Regions from separate parts of the Homo sapiens genome. Here region 1 is reported to be linked to region 2. The links are microRNA targets in miRTarBase. Many come from high-throughput screens and were not tested one by one. Region 2 holds a microRNA gene; the other region holds the end of a gene's coding sequence.
What was found. The annotated mature microRNA hsa-miR-6788-5p reads CUGGGAGAAGAGUGGUGAAGA and lies in region 2 at 2,081-2,101, shown strand. An mRNA with a match to its seed (bases 2 to 7 or 8) in the 3' UTR can be bound and repressed. Matches are read on the target gene's strand: a 7mer-m8 pairs with bases 2 to 8, a 7mer-A1 pairs with bases 2 to 7 and ends in A, and an 8mer does both.

Region 1 (3,000 bases), not on the chromosome of region 2:
TGGGCGGGGAGCCACCTAGGTGATACCAAAAGTTTGTGTGTAAGTTACATAGGTAAAAGAGAGAAGGCTGTCTGCACGGCAGGGACTGCTTTAACAAAAGGTTGTGGACAGGGGAGCTGTGCACAGGGAAACATCCAAAATAGGAACTTTTATGCTTCTAGAGCATAGCATTTAGAGGCAAAGGAAGTAGTTGGAGTGATGAGTAGATGCCTGAACAAGGAGGGGAGTCATGATAAGGATCCCATAGGAAATAAGCAACTGGAGATCATCACCAGGGAATTAAGATGATCAGATTCCCGTCAGTACAGCCAAAGTGTAGAGGGAGGTAAGTTAGGAGGTTGTTGAAGTAACCCAGGATAGAGGTATCTTGGATTTCTTACTAGGGAGCAAGTTGACTGCAGATTTGAGAAACATTACGGAAATAAACATGACTTGTTAATTTCAGTGTCAATGAGGGTAAGGAAATAATCTCTGACTTTTCTAGTCATCTCCCCAAGATATCAGGCTTACAGTGTATTAACTGTAAAGCCTAAACTTGTTACCTTTTGAGAAAGGAGTGATCATTACTTTGTCTACCTTACTGTAAAGAACTGGCGCCCAAGACGGTGGGAACCTTTGAGAGTGGTGCTCTTGGGTTTGGAACGCATTAAAGAGGTGCCTAGATGGACTTGGGGGGAGCAGTCCACTAGTTGAAGAAGTTATTTATAAGCCAGATTAGTAAAATTCTTTTTTTTTGAGACAGAGTCTCGCTCTGTTGCCCAGGCTGGAGTGCAGTGGCACAATCTCAGCTCACTGCAAGCTCCGCCTCCCAGGTTCACGCCATTCTCCTGCCTCAGCCTCCTGAGTAGCTGGGACTATAGGTGCCCGCAACCACGCCCAGCTAACTTTTTGTATTTTTAGTGGAGACGGGGTTTCACCGTGTTAGCCAGGATGGTCTTGATCTCCTGACCTTATGATCTGCCTGCCTTGGCCTCCCAAAGTGTGGGGATTACAGGCGTGAGCCACCGCACCCGGCAGTAAAATTCTTGATGCTGTTACTTTCCTTGTGTTATCCCTGAGCCTTTAGCAAATGTTTTAGGATTCATGTACTTTTATTTGGACCAAAACATTAAAGGGGAAGCAGTGTCCCTTGAGGCCACTGTGGTAGTGGCAGTGGCCTGTTATTGTGAGCTCATTGATGGTACAGGTTGTTTCTTATCTCTAGTCTCTATTAGATGAACAGTGGATATTGTATCCCTTCTGCCTAAATTGATGCTGGGAACTAGCAGATGCTCAAAAAGCATGTAGGGAACTGTTGGAAGTCCCAAAGGGAGATATATTTCTGGGGTCTAAGAGGAAAAGCTACAGGAGCCCAGCCACAATCCATCTATTTAAAATAAAGATGTGGTTTTAAGGAAAGTGGTTTCTCTAGAAGTTAGGTATGACTCCTAGATACCTAGCTAGGGTGGATATTCATGCTAAGACAGAAGAGGGGTATATTTTTTAGCAGAAGCAGAGTTGTAGCTTTATTTCATAAATGTTTTGAGTGTCTACTATATTTCATTTAAAATATAAGAGCTTTCTGGCTATAGTGTGAAGAACAAACCATAGTAGAGAAAAAGAGATAAAGAGCTCTGTTGGGAGTAGATGAGTATCAGACTAAGGCAGCTACAGCTAAATTAGCACCAGAATAGTTCGTTCTGTCACTGAAGCCATGTCTGCTACACCAGTGATCCCTTTACCCTTACTCTTACTTATTATCTCAGACAGTGGATGGGTTCAGTGGGCCAAATACACTCAGAAGATAGAGCCTAAGATAAAATCTCTTCTACCCACTTTACTGGGGATATGGCAATTATCAGGCACTGCTATCAAGTGTTTGGACCAAGACTGATGGCTCCTTTCTAAGTCCTTCCATAACTACTACCCTACTAAAGCCTCTGAACCCAAGGGAACGGCAGCCTGGCTGTGCCAAGAAAGGGGCTCCCAGCTTCTCACATTCTGAAGCCGGATTTCCCTTTTCTGGGTTCCCAGAGAGGCCAGATTTGACAACAATAAAAACTTCCAGGAAATTCCTAGGAGGTTTAATTTCCTAATCCTTCTCTCGCATAGACCCTCTTTCTTACCCCTTCCCCTCACCAAGAGGAAGGAGCTTATCCTGGAGCCCAACATCCTCTGCTGAATGTCTCCACCCCTTTGGCCAAACTGGTGGAACATCTGAGTTCTTGGGTCCTCTCCTCCCAGGCCCATTCAGGGGGTTGAAGGGAACACATTAAGGTAATGTGTGATCCTGCCTCAAAACAGAGGACTGATTGCAGTATCCCCTGAAGGTTCGCAGGGTACTAGATTGTTTAAGGAAGTTTCACTTGCAGATTGTCACTCCCCTACCCCTGTCAGGAAGTAATCTTTCTCTAAGAAATCCCAAGCACTCATCTCTAGGAGACCAGATGTCAAAACACAACCACCTCTGGCAACATTTGGAATTATAGGATGCATTCCCATGTAAACTGGCATTAAGAAAAACAAAATTGCACTAACCAAAAATAACCCAAATTTAAGGACCAGAAGCATAAGCCATGAATTTACTATCTCAGGTAGACTGAGCATTTGGATAATTCTCATTCTCCAGAAATCCCACAGGAAGGAAAAAATAAATAAATTTATATATATTCATATAAAGACTTTTATCTATTGTGCAAAGAGAGGGTCATCTGGCTCCCCAGAAGGTTCTCAACCCCATCAAGACTGTCCATTTTACATCTCTAGCTCCAGTTCTTCTCAGAGAGTAAAAGTGCTCCAAAGGCCTGTGATCATGGGTACTGATTAAGGGCTGCAGACTCTTCAGATCCAGTTAAATCCCTGGTGTTTGAGCTGTGTGGGAGCTGTGGTTGCTTGCTTCCTGGCTTTGCCTGAGGTCCTGCCGCAAACCCTGCAGCAGCTGGTTTAGGAGTGTAAGGTGGCTGTCTCTGCGAGGCAGAGGCAGGGGTGGGAGGCAATTCCCTTTATACTCGATCACTGCCA
Region 2 (3,000 bases):
TACCCACCATAAATAGCTGTTATGAGGATAAAGCAAATTGGTATTTGAAAAGGGTGATCGAATTGTGTCTGGAACCTATGGTTCCATAAATGTTAACTATTTTCATTATCTTGAATAATAGTTATATCATCACTATTATTATTTTACTGTTGTCAGCATGCTTTTCAATCTATTGCTGTCTGTAGCCAGATTTCAGGAGTGTTCAAAAGCTTCCCCCTAAGCAGCTTCCCGTTCATTTAGCTCAGTGCGTCCCAGGATGTCTCTGTACTGTTTTTGCACTTCTGGCTGCAAACAAGGCTGAACTGCCCTCCTTGGATAACTGGAAATTGCTTCCTTGGTGTGAGATGTGTAGTTGTGAGAAGTAGGAATGAGCAGCAGCATCTTATGTTTGGAGATTCTAGATCCTATGACTTTGGAAGTTAGCCTGATTTTCTAATATAGATAATGCCACAATAAATAAGACAGAGAAAACGAATATTGAGCTCAAAACTGCTTAAGAGAGGTGAGCTTTTATAAAACATTGTCCTTGTAGCTGTGCAGAATGTGGGGATTGCTTGAAATTACCAAATCATAAAGCCTCTGGCTGACACATTTGTGTTTCCTTGCTTTGTAGAATAACCTCCTGATGCTGGCTATCCTGGCCTTTGAAGTCACCATTTACCGCCATCAGGAATACTATCGAGGTCGAAATAACCTGACGGCCCCTGTGTCTAGAACTATCTTTCATGACATTACAAGACTACATCTAGATGATGGACTTATTAATTGTGCCAAATATTTCATTAATTACTTCTTTTACAAGTTTGGTCTGGAGGTGAGTTTCCTTGCTGATATGTTTTATTTCTCTTTTCCATGAAAATTCAAAGAACTGCTTCTGGCCAATTGGCCACTGGAACTTTGTGATACATCTGCAGGCATGATAGCTGTCCCCTTGAGAAGAACAGAAAGTATTTGTACTGATGGTTAACTGGCTTGACTGAAAGTTTTCCAAGTTTGGGTGCTGAACACCCCCCTCCACAGCAGTGCCTTGGCCTCTCTGGATCTCCAGAGCCATCTAAATGCATGGCCATCAGTTGCCGTGTTAACAGGTTTCTTATTAAGAATAAAGTATTAATCTTCTGCCTGGGCACGGTGGCTCACGCCTGTAATCCCAGCACTTTGGGAGGCCAAGGCAGGCAGATCTTCTGAGGTCAGGACTTTGAGACCAGCCTGGGCAACATGGTGGAACCCCATCTCTTCTAAAAATACAAAAATTATCCAGGCGTGGTGGTGCACGCCTGTAATCACAGCTACTTGAGAGGCTGAGGCAGGAGAATTGCCTGAACCCAGGAGGCAGAGGTTGCAGTGAGCCAAGTTTGCACCACTGCACTCTAGCCTGGGTGACAGGGCAAGATTCCATCTCAAAATAAATAAATAATAAAGTATTAATCTTCTTTCTTTTTGTGCATTCTGAAACCATAAGCTGCAGCCAAAATGAACTGTTTTAACCTAAAACGATTGTGATAGTGCCTGTGCCTTCATAGAATGAAGTAGGAATGGTGATGTTTCATGAGGAGATCAAAATGGCTGTTCTCTTTATTGTCTGAAGTGGTTATGATAACAGCTACTTAGTCAGTTTTTCCCTGGGAGTAATCTGTACAGTATTTCTGTCTTCACGCTGAGACACTCAAAAGAGCAAGCATTTGTGAATCTGTGCAGACAGACTTGCCCTGAGGGACATGGGTCTCCGCCATCTACACAGACCTGACACCTATCACCAGTCCCCTTTCCCATATGCCTGATTTTTTTTTTTTGCCTCTTTTCATCTTTACACAGACCTGTTTCCTAATGTCAGTTAACGTCATTGGCCAGCGAATGGATTTCTATGCCATGATCCACGCCTGCTGGCTGATCGCTGTCTTATATAGACGCAGAAGGAAAGCCATCGCAGAGATCTGGCCCAAGTACTGCTGCTTCCTGGCATGCATCATCACCTTCCAGTATTTCATCTGCATTGGCATCCCACCTGCTCCTTGCCGAGGTGAGCCTGCCCTTCCCTTGAGCCGTCTACTTTTAGAAGAAGCCATTACTGAGCGGACGGCTGGGAGAAGAGTGGTGAAGAAGAGTATTGATTGTGCTGTTCGCCACTTCCCTCCCTGCAGATTACCCGTGGAGATTCAAGGGTGCCAGCTTCAATGACAACATCATAAAGTGGCTGTACTTCCCAGATTTCATTGTGCGGCCCAACCCTGTGTTTCTCGTCTGTAAGTGTTTCCACTGCAGGGCCACAGAGTGCTGGTATCCGGGTTTACTGTTAATCATTGTTCACGTGCTATGCATTAGTGCCTTTTGTCTTCCACTAGACTTCGTAATCATGTAAAGGCTTGTCTTATGCATTAATATCACAAGTCATTAATGGCTTCTACTCACCCTATTACATTTGCAAAATTAATAAATCAGTGTTGGAAATGCCATATTCACTTGCATAATTTCACTTCCCCCAACACACACACACAAACACACACACACACACACACACACATTTACACAGCCACCTTTCAAAAGACAGACCAGAGAGGAAGGCTTTTGTGTTTTCTGACTTGGTGGTTTCTGGCTCCCAGTGCAGATAAATAAACCCTGAACATGGGACAGTGGATGCTGGGAGATGCTTCCCAGATTTTAGTTGCTCTAGAATTGGGCTGCAGCCCCAAGGCCTTCCCATGGCAGCTGGTGATCCAAAGGTCAGAGCAGCTCCTCCAAGACCAGAGTGCTGGGTTTTACAGAAAATGCAAATGACTGCCCTGCCTAAACAAGTTTAGGTTTAATTTTAAAAGCAAGGAAGCAGCTTGTGTTCAGGCTTCCAGGCAGGCTTGGCCTCAGCCCTTTGTGGGCAGTTGCTGGGAGGACAGCTCTCTCAGGCTGCGCTGTGCTGTCCAGCACAGTCCACCACCTCCACCTGCTCTCACCACACTTGCAGTGTGGCTTCTGCTTTGGGGACAGTCTTTGGTTACAAATGCAAAG

Region 1: miRTarBase lists MRPL17 as a target of hsa-miR-6788-5p. Seed matches in the 3' UTR shown: 7mer-A1 at 1,617-1,623.

The regions. Positions count from the first base shown.
Region 1 is chr11:6,679,288-6,682,287 of GRCh38, forward strand. MRPL17 (mitochondrial ribosomal protein L17) reads right to left here. Exons shown (of 3, transcript NM_022061.4): 3 at 1,098-3,000. The coding sequence ends at 2,831. Among named protein-coding and RNA genes, the nearest start is that of MRPL17, 2.6 kb to the right of the region's middle.
Region 2 is chr18:10,758,725-10,761,724 of GRCh38, reverse strand. It overlaps MIR6788 (microRNA 6788), which reads left to right and starts at 2,076; the gene lies at 2,076-2,141. It overlaps PIEZO2 (piezo type mechanosensitive ion channel component 2), which reads left to right. Exons shown (of 56, transcript NM_001378183.1): 24 at 614-814; 25 at 1,816-2,020; 26 at 2,142-2,243.